Regions from separate parts of the Homo sapiens genome. Here region 1 is linked to region 2. Evidence: fine-mapped expression QTL. A gene starts in region 2. The other region holds a variant in brackets. All regions are shown on one strand. Distances are between the middles of the regions.

The links. PIP is the estimated chance that this variant, and not a neighbour inherited with it, causes the effect.
Region 1: its variant is fine-mapped to the expression of MYO19 in blood mononuclear cells (TOPMed, PIP above 0.99).

What each region holds. Positions count from the first base shown.
Region 1 is chr17:36,467,384-36,472,754 of GRCh38, forward strand. No RefSeq gene overlaps it. Among named protein-coding and RNA genes, the nearest start is that of ZNHIT3, 17 kb to the right of the region's middle. The variant G/A (reference allele first, on the strand shown) is at 2,231.
Region 2 is chr17:36,532,887-36,538,257 of GRCh38, forward strand. It overlaps MYO19 (myosin XIX), which reads right to left and starts at 1,982. Exons shown (of 26, transcript NM_001163735.2): 1 at 1,875-1,982; 2 at 1,067-1,218. PIGW (phosphatidylinositol glycan anchor biosynthesis class W) reads left to right here and starts at 2,101. Exons shown (of 2, transcript NM_001346754.2): 1 at 2,101-2,706; 2 at 4,208-5,371. The coding sequence starts at 4,216. RefSeq lists an enhancer at 673-1,348.

The DNA.
Region 1 (5,371 bases), 66 kb before region 2:
ACTATTCGAAAAACCAAAGCAACCATTTGACAGTAGATCAATGTCAAGTTTTCTTTCCACAAGGAATTTGACACCTGGACTATTCCGTGTGTCTGAAACATTATCTACACAGATAAAGGTGAAGGCCTGAATTGCCCATGTTAGCCTGTCTACACTCCTGGAAATCAATCTTCCTTGCTTAGGGCTTTAGCAAGACTCTCCCCACCCTAGCCTGAGTCTCCTGGGAAAAAGAGGAATTCAGGCAGGAGGACACAAGCGGTGACTTAGCATGCAGCAAAAAGAGGTGCAAGGGCAAAGAAAAAAGGCAGTGGGGAAGCAGTGCCAGGCCTGGCATGGGTGAAGTAGAGGTGCCTTGCAGAAAGAGAGGCTGGAGCCACACTGTGAAGGGCCTTTACCGCCATGCTGAGCCATGGGTGACACAATCAGAGCCATGTTTAAAAAATATATATCTACAACATCATGTGAAGTTGGAGGTTGACTAGAGAGGGCAATACCCAGGTTAGGAACCTCTACGTGAGGTGCTAGTGAACCCTGGAGAAATTCACCAGAGGAGTGAACTTGTCAGATCCACATGTTCAGAAACATCACCGCTGGCAGCAATAGGGTGGCAAAAATGACTTTCTCAATGCCCTAAGGGATCCTGGTGGAGCTTCGCAGGGCTGCAGTGAATGAGGGATCCAGGGAGGTGTTTGGGACTCCATATCCTATCCCTGATTACAGAAGAGTGCTTTCTTCTGTTTAAAGATTTATCTAGAGATATTAATTTTAAAAAGATTGAAAACTACTGCTGCAAAAACAAAGATTGGGGCCAGGTGTGGGGGCTCACGCTTTTGTAATTCCAGCACTTTGAGAAGCTGAGGCAGGAGGATCGTTTGAGCCCAGGAATTCAAGTCCAGCCTCGGCAGCAAAGCAAGACCCCATCTGTACAAAAAAAATTTTTAAGTAGCCAGATGGGTGTCACACACCTGTAGTCCCAGTTACCTGGCAGGCAAAGGCAGGAGCATTGCTTGACCCAGGAGTTCCAGGCTGCAATGAACTACGTTCATGCCACTGCACCCCACCCTGGGCAACAGAGCAAGGCTCTGTCTCTAAATACAAAACAAAACAAAACAAATTAAAAAAAAAAAGAGAGAGATTGGAGTGGATAAGACCAAAGGCAAAAAAAATCCAAGGAGAATGAGCAAAATACAATAGGTTGAGGACCTAGAAAGGGTCTCTGAGAACAGAGAAGGGTCAGATTGAAGAAAGACAGGCTTGAAAAAACTTGGGAAGCAATCAGATGTGAGAAGTGAAGGAAAGGGGTCTAACCAGGGAGTTGGTGAGGACAGCTACCAATAACTGAAAACTTACTAACAGCCAGGCACTTATTCATAGTGTCTCGTTTAATTCTTGCAAAAAAGCCTGTGACAGTGGTATTATTTCCACTTACTGATGAGGAAACAAAGGCTTCAGGGAATAAAGAAACTGGTCGAAGCTCCACAGCTAGAAAGTGTCAGAGACAGACTGTGAACCCAGGTCTAACTCTAAGGCTGTGTTACACACTAGGAAGTAGGGAGGATGAGGAGAATAGAGAGGAGAGCGAACCCCAAATGTGGACAGATGGTTCTAGCGAAGCAGGGTATTTCCCTGACCGCTTCGCGGGATTTGCAACAGGAGTGCCTCATTTACTCAGCCGGCAGCTCTCAACATCCCGTGGGAGGGAATGCATGAGTGAATGAGGCAGGAACTGGAGTGCACAAGTGCTGGAACCAGCTGGCCACTTCGGTGCTGGCAGGAGCGATCTTCACTCACTTGGACCACCCCTTGCAGGAGGGAGCACACAGGTGAGTGGGTGCAGGATCTGGGGAGAGTGCTTTTGGGCGCCGGCAGGAGCAAACTCTGTGTGGGCTCCACAGCAGCATCTAGGCAGGAGGGTTCCTGTGGCCCCTGAAGCCCCAGAGGGCGTGTTACGGTGTTCTTTTAGCTCTTCTGTCCATGGATGGCTTAAGCATTAACAGCTCAGTGGACCCTCTGCCTTTTCACATGAGGCGGCTGCCTTCCACCAGCGAGGGCAAAGGGCCAGTGTGACAGCCTTTTGTATCTGCACTCGTAGCTCCCAGGCTCTAGTCCAGCATCCAGGAAAAATGAAGTTGCATGAATGAATTGAAGGATGGTAAATGCGGGGATTTTACGGCTGATTAAAGTGGCCCTCAGTGGCTCTCAGTGGGAATGGGAGCTGAAAAGGGGTCAG[G/A]GGGGTGTAAGTGATCCTCCCCTGAAGTCCGGCCATCTCCAGCTGATTCTTCTCCAAAGTTACGCTGTCAGACCGTCCCTCTGAAGTCAAGCCATTTCTCTCTGACATTCAGCCAGAGTGCCTGATGTCCAGCTCCTTCTTTCTGATGGCTGAGTCTGGGGTCTTTATAGGGACAGGATGGGGTGGAGCAGGGCCATGTGTAGTTTAGGAAAAGGCAACATTTGAGCAGGAAAACATCGATAGAAGTTCTCACTTTGGGTCTCAGGCTTTTTGGCTTGAGTCGGGGGGGCTTCACCGGGGACCCCCCCGCCAACCCCGTGTCTGCCTAGAATTTCTCGGCCTCCTGTAGCTATCATTTCCCCCCTCTGAAGATGCACATCTAACTGCTGTTAGGATACAGACAATGACCGATCTAAGCTGCTTCCTGCAGAGAGGGGGCATTGTTTTGGGGAGAAGAGCAGTCAGATTCTTCCCAGAGGTCTACCTAAGGGTCCCCAGCAAAAGGGAGCCATCATCCAGGGCTCTGCTTGCCTTGACCATTTGGAGTTTGATGGTCTCTAGGTGAGAAGAAACAAGTTCTACAAGGTTAAGTATGCATGAATCAAATATGTGTATTATACAAAAAGGGGTTAAAAGGAAAGAATCTAGTGGCAAAGTTTACAGAAATAAGAAGTAAAATATACAAATTATTCTGAAAACAACATTATATCCTGTGGTATAGAACAGAGCAAAGGTAAGAACAGCAAGCATAGCCAAGACTTTTAAGGAAGATATCCATGGAAGGTTAATTATTAACACTTATCTTTTGTGATTCTTAGCTTGAGGTCCCTGATCTCTTCACATTGGTACTTTGAGTGCTCTTCTGGGTTAATGGAGGTAACTCCATTAGCTTCCTAGGCCCTTACTAGGGTATAATGAATCCAAGAATCTATTCCAGTGACCTTCACTGCCATAGGAGTAGAAAGAAGTACAGTGTAAGGTCCCTCCCAATCTGGGCTTATAGAGGGACAAAGGGAAGGAAGTACCTTTACCAGTACTAGGTCCCCAGGGTTGAATAGAGGTGGTCCTGGTTCATGGGATTGTGCCTCTCTGACAGTTGTTTCAGTTCCTGTTGGAAATGGGCCAAAGAAGTGATATGTTTAACCAAATCAAAGGTTTCTTGGTCTAGCAAGAAATCATTGGTGAGAAAAGGCCATCCATACATCATTTCAAAGGGATTCAAACCTAGCCTTGAAGGGGTGTTTCTAATACATAGTAGAGATATGGGCAGAAGGGTAGTCCAGGGGAGGTGAGTCTCCTGAGGTGTCTTTTGATAATATCATTTGTCTTTTCTACCTTTCCTAAGAATTGTGGTCTCCAAGCACAATGAAGAACCATCTTCATTGTACTGTATGCCTAGTGCCTTTGAGATCCCCTGGGTGACAGCCGCATTGAACAAGGGGCCATTATCACTCTGGAGGTACTTAGGGAGTCCAAAGCGAGGAATTATCTCATTAATTAGTAAACCTTACATCCTCTGTTAGCCAGAAAATTAAGAAGAGCCTTACTGCCCTCCTGAGAGATTTTTTTAGTTAGAGTGCAGAGGAGAATGTCATCTACATATTGTAAAACTTTCACCTGAGGATAAAGGAACTTGGAGAAGTCTCTTGACCGTGCCTGCCCAAAAAAGTGGGGGCTGTTTCAGAATGCCTGAAGTAACACTATCCAGATTAACTGGGTGGTCTGGTTAGAGGGATCCTCAAATGCAAACAAATACTGGGGGTTTATATAACAGTATGCAGAAGAAGCATACCATTATATCTTTAGGTCCAGGACTGTGAACCTTTTAGTTCCCTCAGGTATGTGAGCTAGCAAGGTATACAGATTGGGAGCCACTGGGTGAATTGGAACCACAGCCTCATTAACAAGATGAAGGTCCTGAACTAGTCTCCATTCCCCTTTGGGTTTTTGTACCCCCAATATTGGGGTATTACAAGGGCTGTTGCAGAGTTTGAGGAGGTACTGCAACCTTAAGTTATCAATGATGGCTTCTGGTCTTTTCTTAACTTCTGGTTTCAGGGGCTATTGTGTCTGGTTCAGACTGGTATGGTGGTTGTGGCTCTGCCAATTTTCCCTTGAGTTACCCAAACTTCTGGGTTAAAATCAGTCTCCACTAAGGGGAGACAAAGAGTTTGTCCTGGGGCCATCAGGATGGTGGTTCCTACACGGGCCACAATACCCCTACCCAACAGAGTATTTGGCCTTTCAGGCACAATTAGAAAGGCACAGGTGAACAAGAGGTCTCCCCAACTACAACTAAGGGGTTGGAAAAAATATTGGGTTTAAGGCCTTCCTGGGATGCCCCTCACAGTCATGCTAAGAGAGGACAGGGGGCTTGAATTGGAGATGAAAACCGAGAGACCAGCCCCAGCGTCCAGAAGGAGGTCCACTTTCCTCCCTTCCATATCCAGAATTGTAAATTCTGGGGCTCCTGGATGGTAATGGTGGTCTGGACCACCGGAGCCAGGGAGAGGAGCCCCAGGACTTGTCAGTCTTGCTGGACCATTTGGGAGATTGGCTCTGGGCCTGGCGACCAGTGCCCCCGGGGACAGTCCACTTTCTAGTGGTCCCCATTGTACATTGGACAGGGTTGGGGTGGCTTCCTCATGTTGCCTGGGCAATCCTTCCTAAAATGCCCTGGCTTACCACATCTGTAGCAGTTAACAGGTGTAGCTTGGGGATTCTGGAGTTTGTGGGTTTGCATGGTGGCCATTAAAGCCTCTGCCTCTTGCCTGTGTCTCCTCTCTCTCTCTTCTGGGCCTCCCTATCTTATTACAAAAGACTGAGGTGGCCACTTTCAGGAGATTCTCTAAGGTACTATCTGGTCCCAGGGCCTGTTTCTGCAGCTTTCTCCTGATATCAGGGGCTGCCTGAGTAATAAATTTATCCTTTAGGATTACTTGTCCCTTGATGGAATCAGGAGCTAGTGAGGTGTGCTTTACCAAGACTCTATTAGCCTCTCCAGGAAGGCAGTAGGATGCTCATTGAATCCCTGGTCCATCCTGGATAGCTTGGTATAGTTGAGAGGCTTAGTTCTAGTCCTACATAAGCCCTCTATTATGCCCACCTGAAACTGTCTCCTCTTACATTCTCCCGTCTTGT
Region 2 (5,371 bases):
ACAGGGTTAGGGTTTGGGTTGGGGTGGGGCTGCAAACCCTCTGGGTCAGTGTGCCATGGAGGAGGAGTAAGACACTGGGGAGACAGAGAAGCCTTGTGCCCTATCCTCTACATTAGACAGAAATATCCTATTTCAGTCGTTGGTGAGGAGGAGAGGCTGGAGTCATCTCTCGCTGCTCCAGGAAAGGTGTGGTGTGGTAGTTTATATCACAGTTCAATCACTCACTGGGTGTGTGATCCTGGGTCAGGCACATCACCTACCTCAATTTCTTACCTTGAAAATGGGGACAGTTAAATCTGCCTCATAAGGAGTGGTTGTGAAGGTCAATGAGGTCATGGTTTGACAGCACCACACAAAGTACGAATCTGAGTATTCACTCAGAGGATAAACACTGTTAGCACTACGACTAAGGGTTGATGATCCATTTGGGAGCGCTAATCAGGTGAACGGTCCAGTGTCAACTTCAAGAAGGTGAGGATTTCAGGGAGATGAATCCATCTGGGAGGTGGGGTGTTGTGAGGCTGGGCCTAAGCCAATCTTTGAAGAATGGTTAAGTGACCCTCAGACTTGGAATTTTCTAGGCCTTGGCACCACCCCTAGCAAGGAGAGATGAGGCTGAGGGTGAAGCGTGCCTGCAATGGATTAACCCTGGTGGAGACTTTCTTGAGGCTCTGAATACATCAAGTCTTTAAAGAACCCAGGGATAGGGACTTCCATAGAAGCTGGAAAAAGGACAATTGAGGCGGAAACAGGTATCAGGACCGTGCTGGACCACTTAAGGTGTGGTGCTACAGCCCTAAAAGATCCTGACCCTGGACACTGACTGTACCCCATCCAAGGGACAGCCATGCAGAGGGCTCCAGAGAACAAAGCTCTTTCAACTGGGAACTCATCTCAAGCAATAGGTCCAGAGGGGCAGCACAACAGGTTTGGGGTTTGAATCCAAAACCCAAGGCCCCTGGCACAGAACCCAAGAACTAAGCCTCACTCTGTTTCCTCGTTTACAAAACGGAGTGATAATATCCAGATCTCACGGGGCTAAATGAAGCGTTAAAGGGGCTAATACCTGTGAAAGCGCTCTGCAAATGTTATTACGATGCAGCATCAGCTCCTAGCTGGAGTCAAGTGAGATTAGAGCAGTTTTCTCCAGTTCTCCCAGCTCCTGCTCCAGTCGGTTTCGCGGTTACCAGCCAAGAATTTCTGGAAAGGGTGTGAACACTGTGGGCAGAAAGGAGACGGTAATGAGTAAATGGAACACCGAATCAAGGCAAGTGGCAACCTGATCACCAGTCCCTCCTTCTCAGACTGTTTCTTTCTAGGCATGGAGGACAGTGGGAGGGCAGACGCTGAGAAGCGCTGGGTAAGGATCTCATCAGTCCAGCTGGCTCCGCCCCCAGGTTCCCGGCGGGAACCGGGGACTCAAGGTCCGGGCGTCGTGCCGCAAACCCAGGGCTGGGATGCCGTTCCGGAAGCACCTGGCACGGGGAGAGTATGTCCTTCCCAGGAAGGTGGACGTGACCCCAGCCAAGGGCGCAGCTGCCCTGACACCTCCCGGGACCAGCCGCCCCCTCCCGGGGTCCTCAGCTGGGCGAAGAGTGGAGCAAGGACCCTCTCCCCCCAGGCCGCCCCCTGCCGGCCAGGTGGAAAGGTGGAGGGTGATCAAGAAAGACTTGTTTCAAGCAAGAGCCAAGAGCTGGGCTACCCCCTCGTGAGACACAAGAGGGTCAAAAGGAAAAGGCAAAAAGGAGGGAAACGGCGCTTTGGAAGGGGAGGTGGAGACGCCTACTTCTTCCTCACCGCTGCGGGGCAAACTGGCCTCCCAAGCCCCTTCCGCGTCTGAAGGGCTTCAGATATAGGTTCGGGTTGACACTCACCGGTCCCACGGCCCGAGCCGCCGTGCTTCAGGCCCCCGCCCGGCCAGACTGGAAAGGCGGGCGGGCCAGGTCAGGCGGCGGGAAGAACACGGGCAGGAGAGAAAAGAGGAGGGGCAAGAGCGTGCAGTGAGGAAAGGAACCTGGGAGCGCCGAACCGCACCCCGTCGGCTGCGGCACTGCTAAGTGGCCGGGGGTCGGCCGGCTCCTCCCTAGGGGCGGGGCGAGCACTCGCGGCGCGGGGCGCGCACGTGGCTTGGCCGGGACGCCTGGTCCGGCTTGCTGGCTTCAACTACGGTGAGATGTTTTGCGACCCTGGGGTAAAATGAGGGTAAAGCGGCAGCTTCCCACGTTCTGGGGGAGAAGCGCGGAAGCACGGTTTCCTGGGCCTTCGGGCGACACCAGGACTGGGGGTCTTTCAGTAGAGGTCGCCGCGGCGGAGTCTTGTGCGAGTGCGGCGGAGTGTTGTGCGAGGCCGGCGGACACCATTACCCTGATAGGGCCTCGCCGTGAGGTCTGAGGGGCCGTGTGAGGTGCATGGCGCGCCGTTTCCTCTCCAGGCGCTCCTCTCAGGGCTACGGCCCTAGAAGATCTGGCCTGCACCAGCCCAAAGGACATGACAGGAGTGGGTAGCCCACGGGACACTGGCACGAGCGCCATGATGGGCGGAGACGCGCGGAATCGGCCGGCCCGGAAGTGCCAGCTGCCTGCGTCGGCCGGAAGTGCCGCGCGGGAGGCGGAAGCGGCTGGTTCCCGCGTGGTTTGGCGGGTGCAGCGGCAGTCCGGCTGCCCTTCCCACGTAGACCGTCTGCTGGGGGCGCCGGCACCATTTGGAGTACGTGAGGTATACGGGTAGGGCGCGGCCAGGTCGGGCGTCTGTTAGGAAAAAGACTTTTTATTTTTATGTTTATTTTTTAAGAGACGGAGTCTCGCTCTGTCGCCCAGGTAGGAGTGCAGTGGCGCGATCTCGGCTCACTGCTGCCTTCCACCTCTGGGCTCAAGCGATCCTCCCGCCTCAGCCTGGCATTACAGGCGCGCACCACCACGCTCAGCTAATTTTTAATTTTTCTTTTTTTTTTTTTCACTCCTGGCCTTAAGCGATCCTCTCTCCTCCCAAAGCGCTAGGATTGCAGGCATGAACCACTTCTCTCGGCTAGGACTTTTATTTTTAATGGTCAACTGATTTGAGTTGGTTACTGTGAGATATTGTCACAGGTTCCAGACAGGCCATAATGCACGCATGCATTCACTTACTTATTCAGCTCATGGTACATTTAGAAACTCTAGGTTCATGTTTAACCAACAAATGTGTTCTTCCAGTATGCCGTTTTTCAGACAATGATGTGTGGCATTCAGAGGTGTTTTACAACCCTTAATAAAAGAGCAACTAACACTAGTATGTGCTATACATCCATTCTTAATGCACCCACCGTACCTACTTCCATCCTAACCTGAAAACATAGCTGTCTGTAAATGAGGAAAGGAGCAGCCTGGGGATCCAGAAATCACTGCAGGGGTCACGTTTTGTACCAAGGCAGTAGGTTTGGAGAGGCTCTGAACTGGAACCAAGGCCCCCAACTTCAAAATGTACTTGGCCCCTAGCGTTTGAATTTGCTTTAAGGTCATTAGTAAATCCTATTCAATTTGCATCAAAGAATCTTCATGATACGTACTGTGCTCCATAATAGAAATTCCCATCTGCCTATGATGCCATTCTCAGAGTTTATATCCCAAATTCGCTCTCTTTTCCTTTGCTTTTTCTTTTCCTTTTTTTTTTTTTTTTTTTGAGATGGAGTCTCACTCTGTGGCCCAGGCTGGAGTGCAATGGCTCACTCCAACCTCTGCTTCCCCGGTTCAACCGATTCTCCTGCCTCAGCCTCTAAAGTAGCTGGGATTACAGGCGGGTGCCATCACGCCTGGCTAATTTTTGTATTTTTAGTAGAGACGGGCTTTCACCATGTTGACCAGGCTGGTCTCGAACTCCTGACCTCAGGTGATCCTCCCACCTCGGCCTCCCGAAGTGCTAGGATTACAGGTGTGAGCCACCACGCCTGGCCCCAAATTCACTTTCTTTGTGAGTCTGTCTTGTACAGGGAATAGCTGAAGCTTTGTAACCAATAATTTAATATTATTAGTATGACATTTCTATCTGAACACATTAGTGTTAAGCTTCTTCCCACAATCCTTGGAAGGGGAATCACAAATCCTAGGTGAACTCATTAGGGCCCAAAGTTCTGCTCTGAAATCTAGTAATAAGAGTAAAATTAAGCCAGGTATGCTAATTACACAAGAATGCTGCTTTTCACAAATCCATTCCTTTGCTCTTGTTTTCACAGGAAGAAAAATGTCTGAAAAGCAGATGAAGGAAGCTTTTGTCAGTAACCTCAATGGAACCACCGTGCTGGAAATCACCCAGGGATTGTGCTTTCCTGCATTCTGTATCCTGTGCAGAGGGTTCCTGATCATTTTCTCACAGTACTTGTGTTCTTTTTCACCTACCTGGAAAACTAGATTCCTCACTGACTTTGTTGTCCTAATAGTTCCCATGGTAGCCACTTTGACCATTTGGGCTTCATTTATCCTCCTTGAGCTTCTCGGTGTAATTATCTTTGGGGCAGGGCTGTTGTATCAAATATACCGAAGGAGGACCTGCTATGCCAGACTGCCTTTCCTAAAAATCCTTGAAAAATTCTTGAACATCAGTCTAGAATCAGAATACAATCCAGCCATCTCCTGTTTCCGTGTAATTACCAGTGCGTTTACTGCTATTGCTATTTTGGCTGTGGACTTCCCACTTTTTCCCAGAAGATTTGCCAAAACTGAGCTCTATGGGACAGGAGCAATGGATTTTGGAGTAGGTGGCTTTGTTTTTGGGTCTGCAATGGTTTGTCTAGAGGTCAGGAGGAGAAAATATATGGAAGGGTCCAAATTGCATTACTTTACAAACTCATTGTACTCTGTTTGGCCATTAGTCTTCCTAGGAATCGGACGATTAGCCATTATAAAATCAATAGGCTATCAGGAACATTTAACAGAGTATGGAGTTCACTGGAACTTTTTCTTTACCATAATAGTTGTGAAATTGATAACACCACTGCTGTTGATTATTTTTCCCCTAAATAAGTCCTGGATTATTGCCCTCGGCATTACTGTATTATACCAGCTAGCCCTTGACTTTACCTCACTGAAGAGGTTAATATTATATGGCACTGATGGTAGTGGCACACGGGTTGGTCTATTAAATGCCAACCGCGAAGGAATAATCTCTACCCTGGGGTATGTGGCAATACACATGGCTGGTGTGCAAACAGGGTTATATATGCATAAGAACCGATCACATATCAAAGACTTGATAAAAGTAGCCTGTTTTCTTTTACTGGCAGCTATTAGCCTCTTCATATCTCTTTACGTAGTTCAAGTAAATGTAGAAGCAGTATCTCGAAGAATGGCAAATTTAGCCTTTTGTATTTGGATAGTTGCTTCTAGCCTGATCCTTCTTA